Regions from separate parts of the Homo sapiens genome. Here all the other regions are linked to region 3. The links come from fine-mapping of genetic effects on gene expression. A gene starts in region 3. Each other region holds a variant in brackets. All regions are shown on one strand. Distances are between the middles of the regions.

What was found. PIP is the estimated chance that this variant, and not a neighbour inherited with it, causes the effect. A credible set is the group of variants that fine-mapping cannot tell apart.
Region 1: its variant is the best candidate, but not a certain one, in a credible set for the expression of SSRP1 in whole blood (INTERVAL, PIP 0.53).
Region 2: its variant is the best candidate, but not a certain one, in a credible set for the expression of SSRP1 in esophagus muscle (GTEx, PIP 0.69).

Annotation. Positions count from the first base shown.
Region 1 is chr11:57,292,099-57,296,320 of GRCh38, reverse strand. No RefSeq gene overlaps it. Among named protein-coding and RNA genes, the nearest start is that of TNKS1BP1, 31 kb to the left of the region's middle. The variant G/AG (reference allele first, on the strand shown) is at 2,078.
Region 2 is chr11:57,313,348-57,317,528 of GRCh38, reverse strand. It overlaps TNKS1BP1 (tankyrase 1 binding protein 1), which reads left to right. Exons shown (of 12, transcript NM_033396.3): 5 at 3,640-4,181. Among named protein-coding and RNA genes, the nearest start is that of TNKS1BP1, 9.5 kb to the left of the region's middle. The variant A/G (reference allele first, on the strand shown) is at 2,107.
Region 3 is chr11:57,334,059-57,338,280 of GRCh38, reverse strand. It overlaps SSRP1 (structure specific recognition protein 1), which reads left to right and starts at 2,389. Exons shown (of 17, transcript NM_003146.3): 1 at 2,389-2,551; 2 at 3,041-3,213; 3 at 3,633-3,818. The coding sequence starts at 3,160. It also overlaps a transcript of P2RX3 not described here. RefSeq lists enhancers at 2,251-2,300, 3,151-3,220 and a silencer at 2,471-2,650.

The sequences.
Region 1 (4,222 bases), 42 kb after region 3:
CCACTGAGTCCCTTTCACAACATGTGGGAATTATGGGAGTACAATTCAAGATGAGATTTGGGTGGGGACACAGAGCCAAACCATATCACCCATCCTGTTCATAGATAGTGCCTTCTCACTGTCATATGGTGGAAAGGGCAAGGGAGCTCTCTGGGGTCTCTTTTGTAAGGACACTAATCCCATTCATGAGGGTTCCACCTTCATGACCTAATTACCTCCCAAAAGGCTCCACTTCCTAAACCTATCACCTTAGGGGCTAGGATTTTGGGGAGACACAAACATCCAGACCATAGCAGAGATCCACATTCCACTGGGCAGAATTCAACTCATTACCTCCGCCAACTGCAGGGGAGTGAGAAATGAGGTTTAGCTATGTGGCCAGAGAGAGAGGACCTGACATTGGTAAAAATTTACCCCTCTTGCCAGAGGTTTGCCTTCATTGATATCTAAGGGTCCTTTCAGCCCAGGTATTCTAGAATTTCCCCTAACCTGTGTCATTTCTCACCCAAGCCCATGGCCATTGCCATCCTATTGTCCCTCAGCCTAGTTCTATGTCATCCTGGTTTCCCCCAGACTTGCCAGCCTTTTTCAAGGCCAGCCTTGTCTTTCTCTGAGATTTGGTAAAAGGAGAGCATCCTGGGGGCTTGCCCTGATGGGGGCCTGAACAGGGTCACCAAGTTGTGGCAGGTCAGAGCTACAACTGAACTTAGGAATCATCTCATTTACTAGTGCTTCTTAGCCTTTTGTTTTAATTTTTAATTTTTTTTAGAGATGGCCTCTTGCACTGTCACCCAGGCTGGAGTGCTGTAGCATGATCATGGCTCACTGCAGCAGCCTCAAGCTCCTGGGTTCAAGTGATCCTTGAGCCTCAGCCTCTTGAGTAGCTGGGACTACAGGTATGTGTCACCATGCCCAGCTAAGTTATTATTTTTTTAAATTATCTGTAGAGATGGGGTCTTGCTATGTTGCCCAGGCTGGTCTTGAACTTCTGGCCTCAAGCTATCCTTCTGTCTCTACCTCCCAAAATGCTGGGATTATAGGCTGTGAGCTACCACATCGGGCTTGTTTTTAAAAAACTTTTAAAGGGTTATGGGGACTATTGACCTAATGTGAGAATTTGACAACTGTGGACTCTAGAAAAATGCACATATACACAATTTCACCAGCCAGCCTGAATCCCTGTCATTGACTTTCTGGAACACTGGTTTTTAATCTTCATTATGCATCACAATCTCCTGAGGTGCTTATTAAAAATGCACATTCCTGAGCCTCACCCCAGGATTCCAACCCAGGAAGTATGCCCAGGAATCTGCACTGTGGGAAGCCCCTGAAGTGGAGGGTAAAGAAAGGCTGTGGGCCTCAAATGGGTTCCTGGCTGCACCCCTGGGTGGGTCTGGGCCAGGCAGCCCCTGTGCCAGTCTGCCCAGGGCCCAGCAGAACTGAGCTGGCATGAGCTTTGTCCCATTCTTCCCACTCCCTCCTCTCTGTAGGAGTAGGACTGGCAGGAGCCCAAGCCAAATACTTAAGACTCATTAGAGGAACAAATGGAGCCTGGGCTGATCCCAGCACAGGGGCTCTGTGCTGGGAGGGAGAAGAGGCAGGGGGCCATGCTTCTAGGGAAGTCAGAGGAGGGTGTCTCACACTCTGCCAACATCTGGGGAATGGTTCAGAGCCTTTGTTGGGAGTCAGGGAGAGAGGAAGCCAACACACACAAGCTTTGACCCTAAAGGCAGGTGTCTGACCAATAACACAACTGAGAAAGTAATGATATGTCTGCCATGCAGCCCTTTCTCAGACTATGCCCAGGGTTCTCGGGAGCAGCCTCAGAGGGGCAGGTCTTGGTCTTTTGAACCTGGATTTGGATTTTGGAAATAGCTGAAAGTTCTTTGGCTACCCGTATTGGGGAATACTTTGGACAATCAAGCAGGTTGACCAATTTTGGTCAAAGGTTGCCCTGAAGGCAATTTCTGAAGAGTTGAATGAGCTCTGGAGAAGTCACTAGAATAACTGGACAGCCTTTCAGGGGACCACTTTGAAGCCAACATCTCAGTGTTTGTATTAAAAAAAAAAAAAAAAA[G/AG]GCCTTTTAGAGAGGCTACCTGTGGCCGGGCACGGTGGCTCACACCTGTACTACCCGCACTTTGGGAGGCCAAGGCGGGTGGATCAGTTGAGGTCAGGAGTTCGAGACCAGCCTGGCCAACATGATGAAACCCCATCTCTACTAAAAATACAAAAATTAGCTAGGCATGGTGACGTGCGCCTGTAATCCTAGCTACTCCAGAGGCTGAGGTGAGAGAATTGCTTGAGGCAGAGGTTGCAGTGAGCCAAGATCATGCCAGGTTGGGCGACAGACTGAGACTCCATCTCAAAAAAAAAAAAAAAAAAAAAAGAAGGCTACCTGTTAGAAAGCTGAGTTGTTGTTCCTCCCAGGGGGTTCTTGTTGCCAACTCTCAGAGAGAGAAAGGATCTGGTCCCAATGCAATTACAGTGAGAAATGTCTCAGCACCGTCTCTCTCCTGGCCCCTGCTTTGGAGGTCCTCAGCAAGGGGAGGGCCTGTCTGCCTAGGAATTGGACACCAGGATGATGGAGGATGCCCTTGGGAATGGAACAGCAGTGGAGCCCAGGGAGCAGTCACTGGTGCTCTCCCACGTTTCCCAGGATCCAGGAGCTGCAACTGGTGTTTGGGCCCAAGAACGAGCTGGCCTTTGTCCATGGAGCCCTCAGTATTGGGGTGGTGGTGGTTGGTGTCAGGGGAGGTCTGAAGGGTGCTGCCCACTGCTTGACACTTCCTTTCTCCAGCATCCTGTCTCCTAAACGTAGTCCAGCCATCTGCTGTGGTCATGGCACATTCCCGAGATGGGTAGAGACAGGTGTCCTTCTTGCGGGCAGCTCTGGAGTGAGTAGATCAGAGTTTATATCCTGCTTCTGACTCTTGTGAGCTGGGGACTCTCTCTCTGAGCCTGAGCTTTAAAAGAAGTGCAAAAATAAAGAATCAGCTTTATCTGACTGCTTGAGGTCTGGATGCAGGACAAAGTGCCTGGGACAAACCACACATTCCTGGCGAGTCTCGTCTTGTCTTTTGTTCGTATGGTGAACTGAGAACCCTTTGCAGTCTTCCTGCCTCCCAGACTGATGACACAGAGCAGGCTGAGGCTTGGCCTAGAAGCTGATGGACGAGATTTTCCTGGGGCTGATTTGCCTGGGGCCTCTTGAGCCAGCAGTGTGGGCTTACCCAGGATAGCCCTTTGACCTCTGTCAGCAAGTGTATCATAGATAGAAAAAATGCTGGCAGGTTCAGAAGCACACCGCCCTCCCCCGGGGAGAGTGCCAGGCCCTGGGTGCAGAGCGATAAGGTGTTTTTTTGTTTTTTGTTTGTTTTGTTTTAAGACGGAGTCTGGCTCTGTTGCGCAGGCTGGAGTGCAGTGGCGTGCTCTCTGCTCACTGCAAGCTCCGCCTCCCAGGTTCACACCATTCTCCTGCCTCAGCCTCCCGAGTAGCTGGGACTACAGGTGCCCACCACCACGCCTAGCTAATTGTAATTTTTTGTATTTTTAGTAGAGATGGGGTTTTACTGCGTTAGCCAGGATGGTCTCAATCTCCTGACCTTGTGATCCTCCCACCTCAGCCTCCCAGAATGCTGGGATTACAGGCATGAGCCACTGCGCCTGGCCTTTTTTTTTGAGACATGGTTTCACTCCTTTTGCCCAGGCTGGAGTGCAATGGCACGATCTTGGCTCACTGCAACCTTCGCCTCCTGGGTTCACGAGATTCTCCTGCCTCGGCCTCCTGAGTAGCTGGGATTACAGGCACCCACCACCATGCCCAGCTAATTTTTGTATTTTTAGTAGAGATGGGGTTTCACTATGTTGGTCAGGCTGGTCTTGAACTTCTGACCTCAAGTGATCTGCCCGCCTTGGCCTCCCAAAGTGCTGGGATTACAGGTGTGAGCCACCACGCCCGGCCGATAAAATGGGTTTTAGTTGCTGTCCAAGGACGATTCTAGTTATACTTTTATGTATATAGTACTGTCTCCAAAGAGCCTAACATCTATTCATTTTTTTAAAAAGTAATGTTCATTGAATTTTTTTTCTGATGTCAAAAGCAGTAAGTATTCCTCATAGACCATTTGAAAAATGCAGACCCAGCTACAGACTCAGTTTACTTGCTTGAGCCCAGGAGTTGGAGGCTGTTGTATGCTATGATCGAGCCTGTGAATAGCCACTG
Region 2 (4,181 bases), 21 kb after region 3:
GGGAACGTTAACCAACTCAATCCTTGTGATAACTCTGGCTAGTAGACCTGGTTAGTCCCATGTGAGAGATGAGAGCACCTGTACTCACAAAGGGTAAGTAACTTAGGCTGAGGCAGCAGCTACTGTGTCTGCCTCCCATGCTTTCCCTGGCTGGGCTGCCTTTTCTGAGTTCAGAAGAGGGGTGAGTCCTTTTGCTGAGATTTTCCCATCATACTCCCGTTCTTGAAGATGGTCAGCCTGCTTTCTTGAGTAAACAAGGTACAGGATGGCCCTTTTTGCTCATACAGCCCTTGCTAGCTGGAGATCTGACTTGATTCATTTGTCCATCCAGCAAGCAGTGACTGAGCGCCTGTTAGGAGCTGGATGTTGGAGATAGCTGTGAAGGTAGAGTAGAGAGTGCAGGGACGAGTGTGGTCAGGGAAGGTGTCACTGTGAAGGGCAGAGGCTGAGCTGTGTGCATGTCTGGAGAGCAGCATTCTTGGTAGAGGGCACAGCAAGTACAAAGGCATTGGTGCTTTCCTGGCAAGGAGGCCAGGATGTCTGCCTGGCAGTGAGAGAGGAGTTAGGTGGTAGTGAGGACCAACGGGTTGGGGGGTTGGATTGTGTCAAGTCTCGAAGGCCTCTAGAAAGACTTTGGCTTCAGTGAGAGCAACAGGCCATTTGAAGGGTTTGCAGGAGAGGCATGGGATGCTGCTGTCTTAGTTGTGAAGAGTCACCTGGCCCACTGGATTAAGAATCAGTTGCAGGGAGGTAAGATCAGCAGCATGGACCAGTCAGGGGGCTGTTGGAATAGTCCAAGTGAGAGATGATGACGGCTTGGACCCTGGAGGTAGCCTACGGTGGAGATGGGGAGAAGTGGTTGGTTCTGGATAGAATTTGAAGGCATGGTGGAAAGGACTTTCAGATAGATAGAGAGCACAGAATCAAGGGTGACCCCACGGCTTTTGGCCTGAGCAACCGGAAGGATGAGTTTATGGTTGCCGAGACGGGGACTTCTAAGGGTGAAGCAGGATCGGGGGAGATGGGAGGAGTTTGCTTTGTGGATTTGTTGAATTTGAGATGGTTTTCAGACATCCATGTGGAAACGTCAAGCGGATGGTTGGGTAGTCGAGTCTGGCCTTCAAGGGAAGTGAGCAAATTTGAAAGGAACACTTGGGAATTGTCAGAGTAGGAATGCTTGTGAAGACTGGCTGAGATTACTGAGAGTGGGGATGGTGCAGGAGGGGAGGGCCCAGAGGCACAGCCAAGGAGACTGGGAGGACAGTGAGAGAGTCCACCAAGTGGAGACAGCCTCCAGGACTGGGGGAGGGCGCCATCAGCTGTCAGATGCCACTGACAGGTCAAGTAAGATGAGCACAGAGAATTGGATTCAGCTCCAGGGAGGTCATCCGTGACCTTGACGAGAGTAGTTAGGTGGCAAGGTAAAGGAGAAAGCCTGTTTGGAGTGGTTTCAAGAGAGAAGGGGACAAGAAGAACTGTGGATATTAATAGTGAATATAGACAGGGCTTTCAAGAAAATGGATGGTAGCTAGTGAGTGATGTGGGGTCAAGAGTGGTTTTTTGGTTTGCTTTTTTGGCTTTTCAAGACAGAAGAAATTAGAGCAGTTTGTGTGCTGATGGAAATGATCCAGTAGAGAGGGAAAAAAAAATCGATGCAGGAGAGAGAGGAGGGATTGACCTCAGCCCCAAGCGAGGACAGTGCCTGATAGCAGAAGGGGAGGCAGAGTGCTTGGGCTCCCATGCAGGAAGTAGGTGGTGTGTGTGTGTGTGGCGGTGGGGGGGTTGTCGGGGGTTCTCTGCTGGTGGCCTCTGTGTTCTCAGGGAACAGGAAGCAAGGCCATCAGCTGAGAGAGGATTGGGGGAGGTGTGGAGGTCTGACGGGAGAAGATGCTAAAACATTGCCTGGGAGAGTCATGGAGTGAATGGCAGGGGGAGTGCCGTGGGATTCTGGGCAGCTCTAGGGCCGGCTTGAGGTCAGCAGTGAATCTGGAGTGAGACCAGCTGTCACGATTGTGTGTTTTTATCCAGCCACATGCAGCTACTCAGGTGCTGGGCTAGGATTGGCCCAGCTGTATTGGAGAGCTGTATTTAAACAGGTTAAACAGT[A/G]TGATGAAGCAGATGAGGGAGTTGAGTGTTGAGTAAAAAGTGACGTTAATGGTGATAAGAAGAGAGGTGAGGGTATGAGGGGAGTGGGGGACAATGAGAAAGAATTAGGGTTAAGGGGCTGTGCTATGAGAGGGGCTGAAAATAAGGGCGTTGGGGAAATAGAGTGAGCCGGTCAGATAGGCGGTGGGGGTGGGCAAGTGGGATACTTGGGATTGAGATGATGCAGAGGTTGCAGCCACTGGTAAGGATGAGGTCTAGGGTGTGACCTTGAGAGGATGGGTCGCACAGTCACTGAGGAAGAGGAGGTCAACGAACCAGAGGCTGGAAGGGTCGCATCTGGCTATGGAGATGACTGTAAGCTATCACAACAATGATGGAGAGGGTTGCAGTGATGCAGCGGTTATGGTTTTCAAGGAATGATGGGTGCGTAAGGGTCAATAACAAGAAAGAATTGTGGGTGCTGTAGTTTAAGGGCACGAGCTTTGACATTAGAACGTTGCAGAGGGGAGTGAGCATGGAGGGAACAGAAGGGACCTTGAGAAGCAAGCAGGACCCTTTATTTTGCCCAGGCCTAGTAGGTGATGATGTGGGAGAATTAACGACATGGGAGAGGGCGGCCAGGGAAGTGTGACCTCTGCAGAGGGCAAAGGTCAGATGGAGCCAGAGTCACTTCATTGTCTGGGGACAGGTGGAGTGCCAGGTGCTTGGTGCCTTGTTTGTCCCCCTCTTCTCTCCACGTCCTCCCCACTCTCTGCCGCCATCATCCCATGAGTCCTATGCCGAGGGGCCAGTGCACACATTTCCCTTCACCCTCACCTAACTGGGAGATGAGCATTGTTGCCACCAGCCCTAATGTACAGATGGGGAAGCTGAGGCTCAGAGAGACCAAGTGTCTGCCATATGTGAGGGAGGGCACATGCTGGTAAGAGGCAGTGCTGGGACGGCTCAAGCCAGGCGCTGTCACACCCCCCAGTGCCTTTTGCCTGGGTCCCATAGCCTTCCTGCTTCCTTGGCACCTTCTGTGCCATGAGGGGCACCCCCTGCACGCTGTAGCCACTCCCCCGAGCTGCTCTGTAGCTGCACTGCACCTCGAATCCTGCTTGGACGCGAAACCCTCTCTCCCCTCACGACTCCCACATGCTGAGGTGCTTCAAGAGCCAGATTCACAATGTTCCTTTTCCCTTTATAAAGCAGGTGTTATGGACCCCGAACTGTGGCCTCTGAGGAGATCCTCACATGAGCTTTGGGTTGAGTGGGTGAGGGGTTCCAACCACCTGAGACGAAAGGAATTATGCTTTGTGAATAAGGATAGGCGCATTCTGGGGAAGAAGGTCTAAAGGGGGCTCTGTGAGAAGTCCTGCCTTGAGTCGTCTGTGGGGCCCCTCCCAGCTATCCCAAGAGGACCCCCTCGGGTTCCAGTTGCCTCCTCCCAGCCTGGGAGAAGCTGACCTGGGGTCTGTGTGGGGTCGGAGGGGACCCTCCCCGCCCCGCTGAGAGGTGAGTGACGGATCTTGACCTTTCTTTCTCTTGCAGATTTCCAAGCCCTGGATTCCCTCAAGTCCAGCCCCCTCCTCAGAGAATGGAGGCCCTGCCAGCCCAGGCCTCCCCGCAGAAGCCTCAGGCTCAGGCCCTGGCTCTCCCCATCTTCACCCGCCTGATAAGAGTTCTCCCTGCCACTCACAGCTTCTGGAAGCCCAGACTCCTGAAGCTTCCCAGGCTTCTCCCTGCCCCGCTGTGACTCCATCAGCTCCAAGTGCAGCCCTGCCTGACGAGGGCTCCCGCCACACCCCCAGCCCGGGGCTCCCTGCCGAGGGGGCTCCAGAGGCCCCCAGACCCAGCAGCCCACCCCCTGAGGTCTTGGAGCCCCATAGCCTGGATCAGCCCCCTGCCACCTCACCCCGGCCCCTGATCGAGGTGGGTGAGTTGCTGGATCTCACTCGGACGTTTCCATCTGGCGGGGAGGAGGAGGCCAAGGGTGACGCACACCTCCGCCCCACCAGCCTGGTTCAGCGCCGATTCTCTGAAGGTGTGCTCCAGTCACCCAGTCAGGACCAGGAGAAGCTGGGGGGCTCGCT
Region 3 (4,222 bases):
GGTCTCCAATCCTGGGCTCCTGATTGCCTGGGATGTAGCTGGCTGGAGCCCTCTGGGACTAATGTTTTATCTGCACTCTGTCTACTGTTTCTGTTCTGTTCTCTTCTGCAGCATCCTCATCCCAGCTCACCAGCTGCTCACACTCTCCCTAAAGCCCCTTGCAATTTCCCATCCCCCAGTCACCTAATAGCCTGCCTGAGCTAAGGACCCTCTTCATTCCTGAGTGTCTGCCAAATTCCACCCAGTTCTGCGCCGTCCCCTCCTTTCCTGAGTTGCCCCCAGTGGCATGGGTCAGGGGGAAAAGGTCTCTTGAAAGTTTTTCTGGGTCTTCTGGGGTGTGATGAGTAAAGAGTCACATATTTCTAACTCCAGCTGGTAATGAGCTTCGCTCTACCTGTAGCATAGCAGTTAGCACGTCTTTTTTGTTTTGTTTTCTTTTTATTATTATTCTTATACTCTAAGTTCTATGGTAAACCTGCACAACGTGCAGGTTTGTTACATATGTATACGTGTGCCATGTTGGTGTGTTGCACCCGTTAACTGTAAATATACCCGTCATTTACATTAGGTATATCTCCTAATGCTATCCCTCCCCACTCCGCCCACCCCGCGACAGGCCCTGGTGTGTGTGATGTTCCCCACCCTGTGTCCAAGTGTTCTCATTGTTCAATTCCCACCTATGAGTGAGAATATGCGGTGTTTGGTTTTCTGTCCTTGTGATAATTTGCTCAGAATGATGGAGTCCAGCTTCATCCATGTCCCTGCAAAGGACATGAACTCATCCTGTTTTACAGCTGCATAGTATTCCACGGTGTATATGTGCCAACTTCTTTTTTTTTTAACTGTCACTTTATTTATTAAAGTCATTTGTTAGATTATGTTTTCCTGAAAGGTTGGGGCTGGGTTTTTTTTTCTGTTTTTTTTTTTTTTCTTTCTTTCCTTCCCTTCCTTTTTTTTTTCTTTTTCTTTCTTTCTTTTTTTTTTTTTTTTTGACAGAGTCTCGCTCTGTCACCCGGGCTGGAGTGCAGTGGCACAATCTCAGCTCACTGCAACCTCTGCCTCCTGGGTTCAAGCAATTCTCATGCCTCAGCCTCCTGAGTAGCTGGGATTATAGGCACCCGCCACCACGCCTGGCTAATTTTTGTATTTTTAATAGAGACGGGGCTTCACCACGTTGGCCAGTCTGGTCTCAAACTCCTGACCTCAAGTGATCTCCCTGCCTTGGCCTCCCCAAGTGCTAGGATTACAGGTGTGAGCCACCGTGCCTGGCCGGGGATGTTTTCACCTTGTTCAAGTTTCCTCAAATCTGAGAAGTGTGCTAAAGTAGTAATAGGCCCTCAATATCTATTTATTAAACCCAGTTGAATTTATTTTGCTAGATAATGCTGGAATAGCCACTACTCAGAGGTTAAAGCTATGAGTTCAGGGGAGAAGGGTGCATTCCTGTTGTCTCTTACCCCAGGATTGATTTAGCAAGCTGGTGTATTGATTGTCAGGGAAATCTTGAGCTTACATATTCTGTACTAATGTCTTCATGTAGGACACATATCAATAGTCATTCTGAACATACAGTCACTGTGATTATGACAGAAGATAACTGGACTGGTGGTGTTAAGGAGGTCTGGGTCCTACCTAGCCTTGTTGCCAACGCACTGAGACCCTGGGCAACTCACTCCCCTTTGGGTCTCAGTTTTCCCATCAGTAAAAGGAGGTTGGGGTAGAAAAACTAAAACATCTTTTCCAGGTCTGGTCTCTGATGTTGCAAAATGCACTCTGGGATTATACGGGGGAGACCTGGCTTCCGCAACCACAGGATGATGTGGTTTCAAATCAGTTCTGGCTCCAAGGTGAATCTGACACCAGGACTTGAACTGGATAAGGCCGTTTGCCAGCCTCTTGGAGGTACCTATAATTTTCGGTTAAGGATGTGAAAATTTTGGGTGTAGACAGTGAACTTGACAGTTCAGCCAGAAAGCAGTGCACCCACGATGACACCAACACCCGCATACTCTCCGCAGCCAGTGGGAGAGGTCGTTTCCTCCCACAACTGTTCAAATACTTCTCTTCTTGTCCCATCGACTCCTTTCCATGACATAGAAACTATTTTGCAGAGAAACGGGCACGCATCATTCCAATACACACCCCCACCCCACCCCTGTACTAAGTCTGATACAATAAAACTACACAATTTCTCTTTAGTATCTAGTCTCGACTGAAGAAGTGTCTGTAGTTTCTAAAGAGCCCTACACACATTTTCTAGGCCGGATTCCCCCTGGGTGAGAGAGGCTTCACGGCAACCACCCTTCCCTCAGGTCCTCCAGAGTCGCTGACGCTCTATGCGACTGTCTCGCAGGCGGGCCCGACTCGCGTCTCTCTAGCCAGCTCATCCTCTCTGTGGCCTGTGTACGGCTTCCGGTGGCGGGACGCGGGGCCGCGCACGCGGGAAAAGCTTCCCCGGTGTCCCCCCATCCCCCTCCCCGCGCCCCCCCCGCGTCCCCCCAGCGCGCCCACCTCTCGCGCCGGGGCCCTCGCGAGGCCGCAGCCTGAGGAGGTAGGTGGTGGTCGTCCCCGGTCCCAGGAAGGCAGGGGCCCCGCTCCCCCACGGGACCCTCGACATGGACCATTCCGCGTTCGCAACCGCGGGGAGCGGGCGAATCCATTATGTGGGGCGGGGGTGAACCGTGGGTCTGGGGCCGCGGGGTGGTGGGAGCGGTGCGAGGGAAACCCTGCACTCTGAGCTGGATTGGGTCGCGTGCGATGTGCGGGCTCCTGGCAGACCCTGGGGTTCCGCTGCTCGTTGCCATGGCTCCCGCCGGAGCGGCCAGAGCGGGCGTCGGGTTGGGTGTCAGCGGTATTCCGGGCCCGGTTCTCCACCCAGGCCTGGACCTGGACCCTCGGGCACTGCAGCGTCCGTCTGTAGGTTTCCAGGCAGAGGAAATCCTGAGACATCCAGGCGCAGCTGGGAGTTGCTACCTGGCTCCATCCGTGAGCACAGCGAGGTGCTGTCTTTCATGCTTATCTGTCTTCCTCTTGAATTCAGATTCCCAACCTGCTGAGCATCCGCACACCCACTCAGGAGTTGGGGCCCAGCTCCCAGTTTACTTGGTTTCCCTTGTGCAGCCTGGGGCTCTGCCCAGGCCACCACAGGCAGGGGTCGACATGGCAGAGACACTGGAGTTCAACGACGTCTATCAGGAGGTGAAAGGTTCCATGGTGAGAATGGCTTGGACAGGTGATACAAGTAGAGAGAAGGAAGGAGGGTAGAGTTTTTGTCCATTAATGAGAGCTTGCTTTGGTAACGTTATTTTGGAAAAAGAAGACTCAGTATAATGTGTACCTAGTGTCTCCACCAACTCAAGGCAATACTGAGAGATAGTCTCAGAGTTATAGGGACCGTATATGCTGTTCAGTTCCCAATTCCTGTTTTACAAATGAGGAAACTGAGAATCTGTTAAGGGTTCTAGATACCAGAGTCTGGTTTAGAATCTAGACTCCTTGGCACCCTCAGCTGTTGCTCCTGCATTGATAATCTGGCCAGTCCACTTGCAGCAGGAATGTGTGTTAGGTAGAGCTGTAGAACCCAGGACATGCTGTGTACTGTCTCCATGCATCTGGGCCTGCTTTTCTTACAGAATGATGGTCGACTGAGGTTGAGCCGTCAGGGCATCATCTTCAAGAATAGCAAGACAGGCAAAGTGGACAACATCCAGGCTGGGGAGTTAACAGAAGGTATCTGGCGCCGTGTTGCTCTGGGCCATGGACTTAAACTGCTTACAAAGAATGGCCATGTCTACAAGTATGATGGCTTCCGAGAATCGGTGAGATGTCCCATGGCTATAAGCCTCCTTTTTACTGCATCTTCTTATTTTAATCTTCTAGAGACTCGAGGTTCCTTCCTCATGTAACCCTGTGATTGCTAGTTTGGGCTCCTTAGAGCAGGGCTGTGAGGCCATCAGGCAATCAGTGTTTGGCTTTGAGCGTTGAAGTCTTGTGAATTTCTGTGTGCCTTGACTCCAGAAGATTTTCTTCTGTCTTGATTTAGATAGTAGTTTCTGCCTGTGGCTTTTATCAAGGTTCAGAATCTTAGCTTGATTTCTTTGTGTGTATGTGTGTTTTTGGTTTTTTTTGGGGACAGGGCCTTGCTCTGTCACCCAGGCTGGAGTGCAGTGGCGCAATCTCGGATTACTGCAGCCTCCGCCTCCTGGGCTCAAGTAATCCTTCC